Linked DNA regions of Homo sapiens: region 2 is linked to region 1. Evidence: fine-mapped QTL for protein levels in blood plasma. A gene starts in region 1. The other region holds a variant in brackets. All regions are shown on one strand. Distances are between the middles of the regions.

Region 1 (8,950 bases):
CGTAGCCCCAGCTCCAGCCATCCACCCCTCAGCCCTTTTCTTCAACGTCACCAATAAATTTTTTTTTTTTTTAAGATTTTACCTCTATCCCATACATAGGTATAAGGTGCTGGGCTCTGCCGCAGAGCGCTCCACCCAGGCCTGGCGCCCCTCCCAGGAAGTGGGCAGACCCCCAGGGAAACGCTCCGCAGGGTGAGAGTCCCAGAGTCCGTGCACAAGCAGAGCACAGGCGCAGCCACTCATCACAGCCCTTTATTGGCTTGGGCTAGCTATGCAGGAGCCACGCGCCAGGGCCGCTGGAGTGCCCAGCTCCGGCCCGGGGCAGCTGCCCGAGGAACATGGCCTACACAAGGCCCTCGGCCCAGGCCCGAAGCAGGAGGGCAGCTGGGAGCACCAGGGCACCGGGCACTGCCCTCTCCCACTGCTTGACGCAGGGTTTCAGAGAAGGCCATTCACTGCCCTTTGGGGCTGGGCCCATGGCGGTGATGATTTGGGAAGAGAGGAGCAAGGCAGACGGTGAGGCAGGAGCTTGGAGGTCAGGGCCCACAGCAGCCCCTCCACAGGGGTGCCCCGTCTGCAAATCAGCATGAGAAGGTCACTCCTTGTGCAGACACCACACCAGCGTCTGGCCCACCCCCGTCATGCTCAGCACACGGAAGCCCCTGCGTTCCAGCTTGTCCAGGACTATGCGGGGAGGGTCATCGACGTAGTATTCATAACTGCAAAGAGACAGGATGGGGGGGGTGAGGAGGGGCACACAGCAAGCTCCTGGTACAAAGCTAGTGTCTGCAGCAGGCAGCCTGGCCACTCTTGTAGTGACTCACACTTGCTGGCTGCTTGCTGGGCGCTGGGGTAAGTGCACGCCCCCTGCCTCCTCCCCTTCTAGGTACTTCACGAGCTATCTCATTTATTCTTCCCAACAAGCTAGTGAAGGTGCCACTGTTGTGGCCATTGATAGATGAGAAAACAGAGGGGTTAATCAGGTTCCCCAGCGTCCCAGATGGTAGACCATGTTAGTCTGACCACAGCCCTGCTGCCGCCCTCCCTGGGCTTGCTCCCCACCCAGGCTTCCAGGTAGGAGGAGGCTGAGGCTGCAGTGAGCCATGATTGCACCACCGCACTCCAGCCTGGGCGACAGAGACTCCATTTCAAAAAAAAATAAGCCTCCAGGCCCCTCACTGCCCTGGCTGTCCTGCAGTTCTGTAGCAACAAGGCTGAGCCCCAGTAGCTCCTGGCTCTGTGCGCCACTCCCTAGCATGGAGAGTGCTGGTAGTCCTTCTGTCAGGTTTAATTGATGCTGAAAGACCATGAAGCAGACAAAGGGCTCAAGCCCCAAGCTGGGCATGGAGAGGCAAGTGCCTCATGGCAAAGGGAGGGGGCTGGCTTCTGTCCCCGAGCCTTGACCCAGGGGCTGGGATCAGCCCTCCTCTTTCCCCGATTTGAACTGGCACTCACTCTGACAACTCTTTTCAGAGAGCCTGTGTAGCTTGGGTTCTCCCTGCCTCCAGGGGTGAGAGGAGGAATGGAAGCAGTAGTCACAGTTTAGACATGGAGGCATTAGGAAGAATGCCAAGGGAAATGGCTAGGTCCCCAGGCAGCAGCCACCCTGGAGGTAGGACGCAGGCTCCCTGCTCCCTGCTTCTAGGGCTTAGCTTTGCGACTCATGCAGATCCTCACGACAAAAACCTTTCTCTCTGTGCCTGTCTGTCCTTGATGGGGTCCAGCTTAGGAGAGGGCAGGGCAAGGAACAGTCTGCTAGTGGAGTCCTAGACCCAGGGAACGGACTCTGTTTCTGCGGTTCCAGTAAGGATGTGGAAAGCTTTCAGAGCAAGCCTCGTGGGGGAGAGGGGGGATGTTGGAGAGGCTACAGATGGGACCAACTCCTCCGGAGAACAGAGCCCCAGGATGCAGGCAGGGGGCTCTGATGCTGGGCCCTGTCCCTGGGCTTGGAGGTTGTATAAAGGGAGCAGAGGCAGGTCTAGGGGCTGGCAGGGAGAGGATACTGAGGGAGGCTGCTACTTACAAGTTGTTTCCCAAGGCTCTTCTCTTTGAAGCCCCCAGATGCTGCATCAGCTCTGGATCCGACTGTTCATCGCCCACCATAGTGGGGCCCACCTCCTGCAAGGTAAGCCACAGTGGCTGCTTGGCTGGCTGCCAGGAGGAGGTGGAAGGTCTTGCCTGTCCTTCCTCCCCTGCCTGCTAGCCCTGAGTAAGGTTCAGGTAAAGGCTACAGAGAGTAGCAAGGATTCTTAGGGGCTGAGCACAAGCTGTGAAGGGGTGGAGCCCATCAATGATCAGGAGGAGCAATGTAGGCGCCCTCCCTAGTGCCTTAAAGCTCAGCTTTAGCCAGGCAAAGTATCACGAGCCTATAGTTCCAGCTACTGAGGCTGAGGTGGGAGGATCGCTTGAGGTGGGAGGAGTTTGAGGCTGCAGTGAGCCATGATTGCACCACTGCACTCCAGCCTGGGTGACAGAGTGAGACTCCATTTCAAAAAAACAAAACAAAATAAACATGTAAATGAAAGAAGCCAGACTCAGATCACATTACCACAGAAAGGTAATTAGTGGTTATCTAGGGCTGAGGGACTTGGGGGAAATCAAGAGTGTCTGCCAGTGGGTACAGGGTTTCCTTTTGGGGTATTAGAAATGTTCTAAAACTGATTATGGTGATGGTTGCACAACTCTGAGTACACTAAAGAAACAACAACACTGAATTGTACACTTTAAATCAAAGAATTTATGGTATGCACATTACATATCAATAAAGCCATATCTTTTAAGAAATAAGAATCACTTTGGGGGGCCATTTCCAAGTATGGGTTCCCAAGCCCCAGACAGAGTTTTAGGAGGTCTGGGAAGGGACCCAGGAATCCACATTTTGGCAGCTGAGCAGATGGCTGCTTCACAAACCGCTGCCCAGGGCTCTGCAAGAGCTCTCTGTTGCGTGGTGAACCCACCAAGGGGGTTGTGTACCCTTTGCTGGTTCACCCCAGCACTGGGCAGTGAGCAAGGGCAGAGAGCACCTTGCTGCCCGTCATGTCTTTCTGAAGCTAAAAGGGGACTCCTGAGGGGCAATCAGAACCTTTTTACAGATAAGGAAACTGCGCCCAGAGAAAGGAACGTGACTTCTAACTCATGGTGTTCCCACCTCTAACTGCACAGCCCCTTCTCGCCTTCCTTTTTTCCAAGCAGGGTGTTCTTTCTTTTCTTCCTTCCCTAAAGCTTCAGGGATAGCCCTTCCTGGAAGTGCCTAAGGGTGCAGCTAGTTGCTGTTTATGGGTCAAGGACTTGGCACCGGGGTTTTAGCGCCTTGGCAGGTCCTTATCTTTTCCAAACCTCTTTCTCTCAGGTTATTCGCCCTTTTTTCCCCTGCGGAGCGGCTCTGTGCAGGGCACTAGGTGCTGCGCGTGAGGCCAGGGCTCCCTGGGTCTCTCCCGCCGACAGGTAGGACAGGAGCCGGAAGCGCCCGGAGGTCGCCCTGTTGCCGGGACGCACGTACCCGGGCCCCTTCGCGGCAATAAAGGCTTCAGGCCGGCCAGAGCTCGCTGAGTCCCGGAAGCCGAGCTGAGCCCGCTTCTCCACTCCCTCTCCCCGGCCAAGGGGGCGTGTCTGGGCGGGTTCCCGGTCCAGTCCCCGGTGGGTGCAGCCCAGGAGGGAGGCATGAAGGTGCAGTCGCAGCCCCCTAGGGCCTGGTCCCGGCTCCAAGTCGCCAGGCGGCCGGTACTCACCATGCGGATCTGGGTGCTGATGAGCAGGTAGGGCATGGTGCACGCGTCCCGGCCTGGCTCCCACCGGGGGCTCTAGGCTGGACGCCGACTCCAGCCCTTCTCGCGTCGGGACTGCGACGCGCAGCTGGGAGTCCCGTTACTCCGGCTCTGGCCACAGGCGGCGTCAATCCCGGGGCACCTTGCCCGTGACCGCCGTGGCCGCCAATCAGGAGCGGCTGCCGTGACGCGCCCTGCAGTCGGCGGTTCGGGGCCCGCCCCCGCCCTCCCGGCGGCGGACTTGGACCCCGGGGCCCACCTGAGGCTTCCGCCGAGTGATCCAGTTGCGGGAAGGTGGAGTGCGGGGAGGAGGGGGCGGTCCCACGACCTGGAAGGACACTATCCTGAAGCTCCAGCGTCCTCCAGGACGCTTAGTGCTGTTTTCTTTGCAGCCTGTGATCTTACTGCGTCCCCGCGCGCGTGTTGCCCCCGCGCCCGCTTCTTGAACACTTCAGGCCAGGTTCCAAAGTCCCCTGCCAGGCAGAGCCCAGAGCAAACGGCGTCCTCACGGAGGCCTCTCCAGGCCCCAGCCCACCCCTCTCAGAGACGCCTCGACAGCTTCAACGGGGCCCCACTTCCCCTCGCCAAGACATGCGCTCCAGAGATTCCTTAAGCGCTGAGGAGGCCGGGGCACGAGGCTCGGAGCTAGCCCTGAAGGCGACAACTAAAATACCACCCAGGGCGCACTGTGCATTCCCCCTCCCAGACTCTAATTCCAGCACAGAGGCGGATCCTTGCATTTCTGTGGACCCGCAGGAAAGTCTGTAAAGGAACCGCGCGCTTGGCTGGGTGCCAGGTCTGGAGTGACTGAATGGATGGAACCTGGCCTTCCCTCCCCTGAGCTTCCCGCGCAGCTGGACAGACGCGGCGCACGCGCAGGAGGTCACTGGGCAACACCTGGGGCAAATGAAACAACTTCCCCCGCACCAGCCACCAATGAGCGGCTGCGAGTTCCCAACCGTGTGTCCACGCCCCTCATCCGCAGTTATCAAAATCTGACAACTCATCCTTCTTTATCTGCCTTGTTGTGATTGGTTTTCTTTTTTCTTTTCTTTTTTTTTTTTTTTTTTGGACATGGAGTTTCGCTCTTATTGTCCAGGCCGGAGCGCAATGGCGCGATCTCCGCTCACCGCAATCTCCGCCTCCCAGGTTCAAGCGATTATCCTGCCTCAGCCTCCTGAGTAGCTGGGATTACAGGCCTGCGCCACGACGCCCGGCTAATTTTGTATTTTTAGTAGAGACGGCGTTTCTCCATTTTGGTCAGGCTGGTGGCGAACTCCCGACCTCAGGTGATCCACCCGCCTTGGCCTCCCAAAGAGCTGGGATTACAGGCGTGAGCCACCGCATCCGGCCTGTGATTGGTTTTCTAGAAAATAAAGCAAAACAAAAACAGCCTGTAGGTAGCCTTCCCTCCCATGGGAGGGTAATAATCTTCACTTTTTAAGAGGGGCCTTTATAGGGGATGCTGCCGTTCCAACACTTTGACAGACGTGGAGAGAGCTATAAGGGAAGCAGGAAGTTGTAATCCTAAACGTTCCTTAACTGGTCTAATTTATTATTCTGTAGTTCCTACCCCTGCCCTCTTACCCACTGACCTAACAAGTTAGCCAGAGAGATAAAACACATTCATGCTTAACAAAGGATGTGTTAAAACTGACGAAAGGGCCGGGCGCGGTGGCTCACGCTGCTAATCCCAGAACTTTGGGAGGCCGAGGCGGGCGGATCACGAGGTCAGGAAATCGAGACCATCCTGGCTTAACACAGTGAAACCCCGTCTCTACTAAAAGTACAAAAAATTAGCCGGGCGTGGTGGGGGCCGCCTGTAGTTCCAGCTACTCGGGAGGCTGAGGCAGGAGAATGGCGTGAACCTGGGAGGCGGAGCTTGCAGTGAGCCGAGATTGGTTGGGCCACTGCACTCCAGCCTGGGGCAGAGCAATACTTCGTCTCAAAAAAAAAAAAAAAAAAAAAAACTAACAAAAGATTGATGCCCAGGAGCTCCTACAACTCAGTGAGAAAAAGATGAACAATGGAAAAAACAGGGGTAACTGACTTGAATAGGCCCTTCACAAAAGAGGAAATAGAAATGACCAATAAACATATAACATGATGCCTAGTATATCATTAGAAATACAGGAAATACAAATTAAAGTCAATTTTACTTTTTTTCATTTTAACCAAATTTATTTAAACCCCAAGACTTTGTAGACACAGTGGCTCACGCCTGTAATCTAAGCACTTTGGGAGGCCAAGGTGGGAGGATCGCTTGAGCCCAGAAGGTTGAGGCTGCAGTGAGCCATGATTTGGTTTATTTTTAAGTAATTTATCCCTACTTAAAGACAGATTACCCTACATGTGAAAGCTATGTACAAAAATCATCCACTGATTAGAAGGATTTTTTTAAGTTATACAATTGTCCTTGGTTTTTACAATGATAAATGAAAAACATTAAAATTCTTCAGTTGAATAAAGTATGGAAGGATTTTTATGTTGTCATTTTTTAGTTAAAACAGAGCAAAATATAACTCACTGGAATATAGAGACAAGAGCTGAGCCGGGCACGGTGGCTCATGCCTGTAATCCCAGCACTTTGGGAGGCCGAGGTGGGTGGATCACTTGAGTTCAGGAGTTCGAGACCAGCTTGGCTAACATGGTGAAACCCTGTCCTACTGAAAATACAAAAATTAGCTGGGCGTGGTGGCACACACCTGTAGTCCCAGCTACTCGGGAGGCTGAGGCAGGAGAATCGCTTGAACCAAGGAGGCAGAGGTTGCAGTGAGCTGAGATCATGCCACTGCACTTCAGCCTGGGTGACTGAGTGAGACTCTGTCTCAAAAAAAAAAAAAAGTCAGATGTGGTAGCACATGCCTGTAGTCCCGCTTGAACCTGGCAGGCGGAGGCTGCAGTGGGCCAAGATTACACCACTGCACTCCAGCCTGGGCAACAGAGCAAGACTTCATCTAAAATAAATATATGAAAAAAAGATAAGAGCTGAATGAGCATGCCAAGAATGGAGAAAGGGGGTATTTTCACAGAAGCAGTATTTTTCCCAGTCCCATCTCCACCTGATGTCAATCAGAACACACCATTGGCCATTTTACAAAAAAACAAACAAAAACACAAATGCAATACGCTGGTGCACACATACCCATTACTGTATGTACAGCAAAGGAAAGGGGAAGGTGAAAATGAAATAAAACTATACTATATTGGTCGGGATGTAGTGGAACCAAATTGCAGTTTTCTAATTGAGGATGTAATCTTGGTCTGTAAGAACAGAGGTTTGGAGTAAAGTAGTAGGTTCCTTTTTTAGTAGACACCTGTCTCCTGCAGGAAAACGTCAATTGTGTATTCATCCTCCATTACCAACTGTGCAGGTATGTCTGTTTCATTGATTGACTGCCCATCAAATCCGAATCTGATCTGCCTCATTGACAAATCCTGTTATTCACAATAGGCTCTCATCAGTTTACTAGGCAGTGTATGCCTCTTAAACTGCGCCACAGAACTATCCTGCCACACCACCTTCAAACAAATATGATCGTTGTTCTCAGTCTTAACTTCTTCCTTGAGCTTCCATGGCCATGGCAAGCACCAGAATCTCTGCAGCTGCTGCTTCACAAAGCAGGTACTGTTACCGCCCTCAAGGGAGGGTCGCTTGACCCGTCCAGTGCAGTTCTTACCAATAAAATGAAACCAGGTTCAGTAAAGCAGAGCAGAAACGTTCATTGGTCAAGAATGGAAAAGGGGAGCTTCTGCTCAAAGCACCTGCTCCCTGGACATTGGGTAAAGGGGGATCTTAAGGGTTTTTTGGGCAGATAGGTGAAGACTGGGGTAGGGATTCCTGGATGGGTTCTTCCAGGAGCAGCTGGAGTGTGTAGATTCTTTTTGCACCTGGCACTGTTTGTGCTTAGCAAGGTACATTTCTCCGCACTGAGTGGAGATTTTAGTATAGCAGTGAAGCAGTAACTCAGGTCAAGGCAGCACTGCTGAGTTCAGTTCATCTTGTGGCTGGTTCCTGGTTATTGGCACCTGGCCTTTGTTTCTGTAAGCAAGCGCAGCTGGGAGGATGGTTAATTTCACAGGTTTTGGGACTTCCTGAAAGAACTGAGGGCCAGCGCAGTGGCCCCCGCCTGTAGTCCCAGCACTTTGGGAGTCCAAGACATGCATATCACCTGAGGCTGGGAGTTAGAGACCACCCTGGCAAACATGATGAAGACCCGTCTCTACTAAAAATACAAAAATTTGGCTGTGCACAGTGACGCATGCCTGTAATCCCAGCACTTTGGGAGGCCAAAGCGGGTGGATCACTTGAGGTCAGGCGTTCAGACCAGCCTGGGCAGCTGCTCTCTGCCCAGCGAAACCCTGTCTCTATTAAAAAATACAAAAAATTAGTTGGGCCTGGTGGCGGGTGCCTGTAGTCCCAGCTACTCGGGAGGCTGAGGCAGGAGAATCGCTTGAACCTGGGAGGTGGAGATTTCAGTGAGCCAAGATCAAGCCACTACACTCCAGCCTGGGTGACAGAGCAAGACTCCGTCTGAAAAAAATAAAATAAAAATAGAAAAATTAGCCGGGCATGGTGGCGTGTGCCTGTAGTGCCAACTGTTTGGGAGGCTAAGGCACAAGAATCACTTGAACCCTGGAGGTGGAGGTTGCAGTGAGCCCAGATCACACTGGGCAACAAAGTGAGATTCCATTTCAAAAAAAAAAAAGAATTGAGGTCATGTTGCGGTAACAGTACCAGATCCAACCAAACAAGCACATAAGCAACACCAGGAGTACAGAAGACTAAATTACTTTTTTTCTTTTTTTTAAGAGACAGGGTCTTGCTCTGTCACCCAGGCTGGAGTGCAGTGGTGTGATCAAAGCTCACTGTAACCTTGAGCTCCTGGACTTGAGGCATCCTCCCACCTCACCTCCCACATGCCACCATCCCCAGTTAATTTTTTTTTTTTTAATTTTTTGTAGAGACAGTCTCACTGTGTTGCCCAGGCTGGTGTCCAACTCTTGGCCTCAAACAATCCTCCTGCCTTCGCCTCCCAAAGTACTGGGATTACAGGCATGAGCCACTGTGCCCAGCCTAAGCTACATTTTTTTTTTTAATTGAGACGGAGTCTTGCTCTGTTGCCCAGGCTGGAGTGCAGTAGTGTGATCTCGGCTCACTGCAAGCTCTGCCTCCTGGGTTCACA
Region 2 (8,950 bases), 380 kb before region 1:
AACTAGACTCCAGGAGTGGTGGCTTATGCCTGAAATCCCATCACTTTAGGAGGCTAAGGTGAGTGGATTACCTGAGGTCAGGAGTTCGATACCAGCCTGGCCAACATGGTGAAAACCTATCTGTACTGAAAATACAAAAATTGGTTGGGCACAGTAGTGTGCACGTGTAGTCCCAGCTACTCAGGAGGCTGAGGAGGGAGAATCACTTGAACCTGGGAGGCGGAGGTTGCAGTGAGCCCAGGTGGTACCACTGCACTCCAGTCTGGGCAACAGAGCAAGACTCTGTCTCAAAAAAAAAGAAAAAAAGACTACTAGAAATGGTTGTTCATGCAAGGTGTGTAAAAACAATAGAATACAATGTATTTTGTTTTGTTGTTAAAGGTTATAAAAGGCTTTTGCTTCTTTAAAATTTCTGAGTCATCACTTTGGCAAAATAAATAATTTATGGTAATCTGGAATTCCAAAATCAAACTTCCGTTTCAAAATTATCTTTCCTAATGCTTGGCTTTCTGGATGGATCAGAGGGCCCCTGAAAACATCCAGAAAAGAGGTAAACAGGATTATTTGACCTGTTTAGGTACATGGAATTGCCAAAATGATGTTCAATCTTCTTTAGGTTGTATTTGTGTGAATAATACTAATATATATCCCAAAATTTTATGGGATTTCTAAAATTCTAATGTCTAAGTATATGGTACCAATCACAATTATAGTTATTATGTTAAGTTATTGTAAACTACAGAAATAACCAAATTTCCTTGTATGAAGCTACTAACCCAAGTAGAACAACAACAACAAAAAATTAAATATCAAGAAAATACTTTCATGTTCAGCTAACACTGAAATTGTTTTTGTTTGTTTGTTTTGAGACAGAGTCTTGCTCTGTCACCCAGGCTGGAGTGCAGGGGTGCGATCTCAGATCACTGCAAACTCCACCTCCCGGGTTCAAGTGATACTCCGCCTCCCGGGTTCAAGTGATTCTTCTGCCTCAGCCTCTGGAATAGCTGGGATTACAGGCACCCACCACAATGCCTGGCTAATTTTTGTATATTTAGTAGAGACAGGGTTTCACCATGTTGGCCAGGCTGGGCCCGAACTCCTGACCTCAAGTGATCCACCCGCCTCGGCCTCCCAAACTGTTAGGATTAAAGGGGTGAGCCTTCGCGCCCAGCTGATTTTTATTTTCAATGTATGTTTTCTTCTTGTATGAAAGCTTTCTCATGCAAGAGGGCTGATGTTATAACAGTAGATTATTACGGTACAGTGTATTTTCACCAGGTAAAGAAAGTTTTTTATAGTTTGAATCTTCTGGAAACATCAGAGAATAACTGTCCTTTCCACACTACAAGAAAACTTCGGGACCTTGAATGGGTTCATAATCTCACAGCTGAGAAGGGTCCTCCGTGCTCTTAGAGCTGTGCACCCACTGGATCCCTTAAGGTAAAACTAACCAGGGAAAATTCTCCCAAGAAGAGGATGTCATCCTTGATGTGAACAGCTTTTCCCAAGTTCACAGGTGAAGACTTCTACTATCATGACGTTTTATCTTTGAATATTTTTTTTCTTGCTTATGCCTCTATAAACAATAGAAGTGAAAAAGGGGTCTGTTATGGGCACTAATGGGGTATACTTTTATTTGTAAAGGAGTTTGCAGCCAGCCTTATACGTGGATAACCTTATACATTAATAGATTAAAAAATGAAGGCCCTTGGGAGGCCGAGGTGGGCGGATCATGAGGTCAGGAGTTCGAGACCAGCCTGACCAACATGGAGAAACCCCGTCTCTACTAAAAATACAAAAATTAGCCAGGCATGGTGGCCCACGCCTGTAATCCCAGCTACTCAGGAGGCTGAGGCAGGAGAATCACTTGAACCCGGGAGGCGGAGGTTGCAGTACGCCAAGATCGCACCACTGCACTCCAGCCTGGGCAACAGAGTGAGACTCTATCTCAAAAAAAAAAAAAAAAAAAAAAAAAAAGAAGGCCCAATGTGGATAAGAAACTTTAATGGTACATACGTTCATACGTTGCCTCATAATAAGTCAAAAACAAAACATTGGTTCACTCCTCTTTTTTTTTTTGAGACAGAGTTTTGCTCTTATAGCCCAGGCTGAAGTGCAACGGCACCATCTCGGCTCATTGCAACCTCTGCCTCCAGAGTTCAAGCGACTCTCCTGACTCAGTTTCTGAGTAGCTGGGGTTACAGGGATGCGCCACCACACCCTGCTAAATTGTTTTGTATTTTTAGTAGAGAGGGGGGTTTCTCCATGTTGGTCAGGCTGGTCTCGAACTCCTGACCTCAGGTGATCCACCCGCCTCAGCCTCCCAAAGTGCTGGGATTACAGGCTGTGAGCCACCATGCCCAGCCAGAGTTTCCCTCTTCTCACCCAGGCTGGAGTGCAATGGCACAATCTCGGCTCACCGTAACCTCTGCCTCCTGGGTTCAAGCCTCCCAAGTACCTGGGGTTACAGGCGCCCGCCACCAAGCCTGGCTAGTATTTATTCATTTATTTATTTTTGAGACAGAGCCTCACTCTGTCACCCAGGCTGGAGTGCAGTGGCACTATCTCAGCTCACTGCAAGCTCCGCCTCCCAGGTTCAAGCCATTCTCCTGCCTCAGCCTCCCGAGTAGCTGGGACTACAGGCGCCCGCTACCACGCCCGGCTTATTTGTGTGTGTGTGTGTGTGTGTGTGTGTGTGTGTGTGTGTGTGCGCGCGCGCGCGCGCGCATGTGTGTGTGTGTGTATTTTTAGTAGAGACGGGATTTCACCATGTTAGCCAGGGTGGTCTCGATCTCCTGACCTCGTGATCCGCCTGCCTCGGCCTCCCAAAGTGCTGGGATGACAGTCGTGAGCCACCATGCCTGGCCGAGCCTGGCTAGTTTTTAATTTTTAGTAGAGACAGGGTTTCTCCATGTTGGTCAGGCTGGTCTCATAAACTCCTGACCTCAGGTGATCTGCTCTCATTGGCCTCCCAAAGTGCTGGTATTACAGGTATGAGCCACCGCACCCAGCCCTCGTTCACTCCTCTTAACCCACATCATGGGTTAAAGAGAACATTGCCAGGAGTCCTTCACTCTTCTAAAAGAAAGGGCATCATTTGTTAGGTCCTTTTTCCATGGTTTAATGTAAAAGAAGCAATGATTAGAAATGGATCCCTTGGCTGGGCACAGTGGCTCACGCCTGTAATCCCAGCATTTTGGGAGGCTGAGGTGGGCAGATCACAAGGTCAGGAGTTCTAGACCAGCCTGTCCAACATGATGTAACCCCATCTCTACTAAAAATACAAAAATTAGCCGGGCGTGGTGGCATGTGCCTGTAATCCCAGCTACTTGGGAGGCTGAAGTAGGAGAATTGCTTGAACCTCGGAGGTGGAGGTTGCAGTGAGCAGAGATTGCACTACTGCACTCCAGCTCTGGAAGACAGAGCAAGACTCCATCTAGGGGAAAAAAAAAAAAGAAATGTTTCCCTCATGTTAAGTTCTATAGCAAATTCTACTGTAAAGGCCACAGTTACACAACAGACACTAAATTCTCTTATAAAAGTTATGATATAATTGGCTAAACAGAGAAGTATCTGTGCAGCTGCTGGCACTTGTGGCCTGTGGAGAAATACATCAAATGAAGATTATAGAGATTCAGTGGTAGGGGACTGATGAAGAAATTGCCTAGTCAAGTGAGTAAACTCTTTATCTAGTTCATTCTTTTATCTATTTGATTTTAGAAGGTTTGGTTTATGGGGACCTTGGATAAGGATCATACTCTGAACTCTTGGTACTACCCTCCTAATAGTAAACAAAATTCTGGCAGGTCATTGTTATGGACTGAGTGCATGCACTAGGCACCAAGAGACCAAACCAAACTAAAATGGAATCCCT[C/T]CTGCTAAGACTTTAAGGAAACACCGGGGTTCTAGAACAGATCAGGTTTTTTGTGTTTTTTTTTTTTTTTTTTTTTTGGAGACGGAGTCTCACTCTGTCGCCCAGGCTGGAGTGCAGTGGTGCGCTCCCCGCCCACTGCAACCTCCGCCTCCTGGGTTCAAGCGATTCTCCTGCCTCAGCCTCCCAAGTAGCTGGGACTACAGGTGCATGCCACCACACCTGGCTAATTTTTTTGTATTTTAATAGAGACGGGGTTTCACCGTGTTGCCCAGGCTGGTCTCGAACTCCAGAGCTCAGGCAATCCACCCGCCGCAGCCTCCCAAAAGTGCTAGGATTACAGGCATGAGCCACCGCACTGGCCCAGGTGTTTTTTTTTTTTTTTTTTTTTTTTACTGCAAATCTCTATAACAAACATTTCTGACAGCATAGATATCCACTCCTTGAAGTTTCCATTAAATCTTTTAATCAAATTCATTTCCTCTTGCCTAGAGACCATCGAGTTTCAGATGATCATGCAACAGAAGTTCCAGCCAGTTCCAGGTGAAGACACCACCCCTGGCCATAAAGAAGTTACCCTGCTGGACCGGGAGCGGTGGCTCATGCCTGTAATCCCAGCACTTTGGAAGGCTGAGGCAGGTGGATCACGAGGTCAGGAGTTCAAGACCAGCCTGACCAACATAGTGAAACCCCATCTCTACTAACAATAGAAAAATTAGCTGGGCATGGGGTCGCGTGCCTGTAATCCCAGCTACTTGGGAGGCTGAGACAGGAGAATCACTTGAACCCGGGAGGCAGAGGTTGTGGTGAGCAGAGATTGCACTACTGCACTCCAGCCTGGGCGACAGAGCGAGACTCCATCTCAAAAAAAAAAGAAGTTACCCTGCCTTCACTAGAAAGAACAGGGCAAAAGTTCTGTGATCCCAATAGGTAAGGACTATGCCCCAAGCCAGAATGAAGCAGTTAGAGGAAAACAAAGAAACAAACAAACAAAAAACCATTAATCCCTCTGCCTCCCATAAAGATTTATGGGGATCACATCTCTCAGCGGGGAGATGAGGCAGGAAAATAGGGTCTGGAGGCAGAGAACATAAGGCCGATTCACACTTCAGCTACAACAGGAAATATCCTCTCCATAGGGCCTATGCTGTACATGACTTTGTAACTTTACTTCATCCTCTCCATTTACACAGGGTGTACCCGAAGTAACCAATGGAATCCTCTAGGGGGTATTTAAACTCCCAAAAATTCTGTAGCAGAGCCTTTGAACCCCTATGCTCAGGCCCCCTCCCATACTGTAGATTGCATTTTCATTTTCCTTTTTTTTTTTTTTTTTTTTTTTTGAGAAAGAGTCTTCCTTTGTCATCCAGGCTGGAGTGCAGTGACATGATCTCGACTGACTGCAACCTCCACCTCCTGGGTTCAAGCCATTCTCCTGCATCAGCCTCCCGAGTAGCTGGGATTCAGGCACGCCCACCACGTCTGGCTAATTTTTGTACTTTTAGCAGAGATAGGGTTTCAGCCTGTTGGCCAGACTGGTCTTGAACTCCTGGCCTCAAGTGTTCCCCGGCCTTGGCCTCCTAAAGTGTTGGGATTACAGGCTCAAGTCACCTTGCCTAGCTACTTTCATTTTCAATAAATCCCTTCATTCTTTCCTTGCTTTGTTTGTGCGTTTTGTCCAATTCTTTGTTTGAGATGCCAAGAACCTGGACACCTTCTACTGGTAACATCCTGACCTCAGGTGATCTGCCCACCTTAGCCTCCCAATGTGCTAGGAATACAGGTGTGAGCCACTATGCCTGGCCTAGATGTTTCTTTCTTTTTTTTTTTTTTTTTTGAGATGGAATTTTGCTCTTGTTTTATGGGTGGTCTTTTTGGAGTGATGAAATGTTCTAAAATTGTGAATCTACTAAAAACCACTAAAAGGTGATTTTGTTATGTGAATTAAATGTCAATAAAACTGATTAAGAGTCAGGATATTTGCATAGGTATATTTATCAAGGCAGGGGAATTGGAGTAAAGTGTTTAATACATGTAGAGTTGGCTAAATGGGGGACCAGAGCTTTATTCTTAATCAAATCAGTCTCTGAAAATTCAGAGGCTAGGGGTTTTTGTTGTGTTGTGTTCTGTTTTGTTTTGTGACAGAATCTTGCTCTGTTGCCCAGGCTGGATTGCAGTTGCGCAATCCCGGCTCACTGCAACCTCTGCCTCCTGGGTTCAAGCCATCCTCAGCCTCCTGAGTAGATGGGACTACAGCCATGTGCCACCACGGCCTGGCTAATTTGTGTATTTTTAGTAGAGATGGGGTTTCACCATGTTGGCCGTGGCTGGTCTGGAACTCCAGGCCTCAAGCCTTCCACCCACCTCGGCCTCCCAAAGTGCTGGGATTACAGGCATGAGCCACTGTGCCTGGCCGAGGCTAGGGTTTTTAAAGGATAGTTTGGGAGGCAAGGGAATGGGTACTACTGATTGGTTGTGGATGCATTCATAGGGGTGTGGAAAACGGTCCTTGTGTGGTGAGTCAGCTTCTGGGTGGGGTCACAGGAGAAGTTAAGTTAAGAGTCACAGATCCGGGTGGGGCTATGGGTCCTCAGAAATGCAAAAGCCTAAAAGAAATATCTCAAAAGGCCAATCTTAGGTTCTGTAATAGTGATGTTATCTGCAAGAGTAATTGGGGAACTTGTAAATTTTGTGATCTCCAGAATAATGGCTGGTAATCACTTATCTGTACACCTTAGTAAAATTCATCTCATCCTCCTAACCTGGTGGGTTTTTTTGCTTTGTTTTTGAGATGGAGTCTCCCTCTGTTGCTCAGGCTGGAATGCAGTGGCACGATCTCGGCTCACTGCAACCTCCGCCTCCCAGGTTCAAGGGATTCTCCTGCGTCAGCCTTCCGAGCAGCTGGGATTACAGGCGCCCGCCACCATGCCTGGCTAATTTTTGTATTTTTAGTAGAGATGGTGTTTCACCATGTTGGCCAGGATGGTCTCCATCTCCTGACCTCATTATCTGCCCGGGGGAGGCACTGCACCTGGCCACATTTTGGACTTTATTTATTTATTTATTTGTGTTTTTAAGGAGCAGAGAATTTAATAGGCAAGATGAAGGGGGAAGAAAGAAGGAAGAAACTCCCCTGTACAGAGACAGAGGGAGGGGGCACTCCAAAGCCAAGAGAGAGAACCCCCAGTTTGGACTTTAGAGGCAAGATGGGGGTTGGTTAGTTCTTACCTCTTACAGGGTCATTATTTTCTTTCTTCCTTCCTTTCTTTTTTTTTTTTGAGACAGAGTCTGGCTCACACAGGCTGGCGTGCAGTGGCGTGATCTTGGCTCACTGCAACCTCTGCCTCCCAGGTTCAAGCAATTCTCCTGTCTCAGCCTCCCCAATAGCTGGGACTACAGACGCACACCACCACAGCTGGCTGATTTTTGTATTTTTAGTAGAGAAGGGGTTTCACCGTATTTGTCAGGCTGGTCTCGAACTCCTGACCTCAGGTGATCCACCCACCTCGGCCTCCAAAACTGCTGGGATTACTGGTGTGAGCCACCACGCCCAGCCCCGGTCATTTTCTCACTGTTATAATATTTGGAAAGGCAGTTTCAAGATCTGCGTGTCTATCTCTCCACCAATACTATACAGCATTAATTCATTTAGCTATCTAGTAAGTTTTGAAATTAGATAGACTGATTCTTCTCCCTTTATACTGCATCTTCAAAATTGTTTCAGCTATTCTCATTCTATTACTGAAACGGTTCCCAGTCCAGACCCCAAGAGATAGTTCTTGGACCTCTCACAAGAAAGAATTTGGGGTAAGGCAACAGAGAAAAGCAAAAGCAATTTTATTAGAAAGTATGAGGCTGGGAGTGGTGGTTCACTCCTGTAATCCCAGCATTTTGGGAGGCTGAGGCAAGCAGATCACCTGAGGTCAGGAGTTCGAGAACAACCTGGCCAACTTGGCAAAACCCCATCTCTACTAAAAATACAAAAATTAGCTGAGTGTGGTGGTGCGTGCTTGGAATCCCAGCTACTTGGGAGGCTGAGGCAGGAGAATCGCTTGATCCTGGGAGGTGGAGGTTTCAATGAGCCACGATTGTGTCACTGCACAAGAGATCCCATCTCAAAAAAAAAAAAAAAAAAAAAAAAAAGTATGGGACGGGCTGAGGGATAAAAGACTACAAATTGGGTTCGGCATATACTGCTCGGGTGATGGGTGCACCAAAATCTCACAAATCTCCACTAAAGAACTTACTCATGTAACCAACTTTTCCCCCAAAATCTATGGAAATAAATTTTTTTTTTTAAAAAAGGAGAAAAAAACGTTAGGGCAAGAGAATTAAAGCTCATCTTTCTTAGCACAAAATCAATTTGTAAAATCTTTTTTTTTTTTTTGAAATGGAGTTTTGCTCTTGTTGCCCAGGCTGGAGTGCAATGGTGCAAACTTGGCTCACTGCAACCTCTGCCTCCTGGGTTCAAGCAATTCTCCTGCCTCAGCATCCCTAGTAGCTGGGATTACAGGCGCCCGCCACCATTCCCCATTTATTTTTGTATTTTTAGTAGAAACAGGGTTTCACCATGTGGGCCAAGCTGGTCTCAAACTCGTGACTTTAGGTGATCCACCCACCTTGGCCTCCCAAAGTGTTGGGATTACAGGCGTGAGCCACTGTGTCCTTCCAATTTGTAATACCTTAAATGTGAAAATAAAAAATCTCATGTACCCTATAAATATATAATACACCTACCATGTGCCAACAAAAGTTAAAAATTAAAATATTACAAAGTGAAAAAAAAAAGTAAATAAAGAGTGGCTACTCCATAGGCGGAGCAATGTATAGGCTGCTCAACTGAGTATACTTATAGTTATTTCTGGATTATATGCTAAACAAGGTGTGGATTATTCATGAGTTTTCTGGAAAACAGGTGGAGATTTCCCAGAAATCACAACTGGGGATTCCTCCCCTTTTTAGACCATATAGGGTAATTTCTGGGTGTTTCCATGGCATTTGTAAACTGTCATGGTACTGGTGGGAGTGTTCTTTAGTATGCTAATGTGTTACAATTAGTATTTAATGAGCAGTGAGGAC

Alleles and levels. Positions count from the first base shown, and alleles are read on the strand shown. Strength reflects both the effect of a copy and how common the allele is.
In carriers of allele C in region 2, the plasma level of the protein whose gene starts at base 3,877 in region 1 tends to be higher than with T alone (weak association).

What was found. PIP is the posterior inclusion probability: the model's chance that the variant is causal. Protein levels are from antibody-based Olink assays in UK Biobank. Linkage for the fine-mapping came from a reference panel and not from the study's own genotypes, which makes the PIPs less certain.
Region 2: its variant is fine-mapped to the plasma level of the GCHFR protein (UK Biobank, PIP 0.98).

The regions. Positions count from the first base shown.
Region 1 is chr15:40,758,995-40,767,944 of GRCh38, reverse strand. GCHFR (GTP cyclohydrolase I feedback regulator) reads right to left here and starts at 3,877. Exons shown (of 3, transcript NM_005258.3): 1 at 3,729-3,877; 2 at 2,024-2,118; 3 at 237-719. The coding sequence starts at 3,764. The coding sequence ends at 596. DNAJC17 (DnaJ heat shock protein family (Hsp40) member C17) reads left to right here. Exons shown (of 11, transcript NM_018163.3): 11 at 1-2,784. The coding sequence ends at 5. It overlaps LOC124903474 (a long non-coding RNA gene), which reads left to right and starts at 6,677. Exons shown (of 2, transcript XR_007064599.1): 1 at 6,677-7,138; 2 at 7,219-7,471. It also overlaps the pseudogene SUMO2P15. RefSeq lists enhancers at 1,765-2,554, 3,332-4,197 and a silencer at 3,864-4,313.
Region 2 is chr15:41,139,726-41,148,675 of GRCh38, reverse strand. No RefSeq gene overlaps it. Among named protein-coding and RNA genes, the nearest start is that of INO80, 28 kb to the right of the region's middle. The variant C/T (reference allele first, on the strand shown) is at 3,875.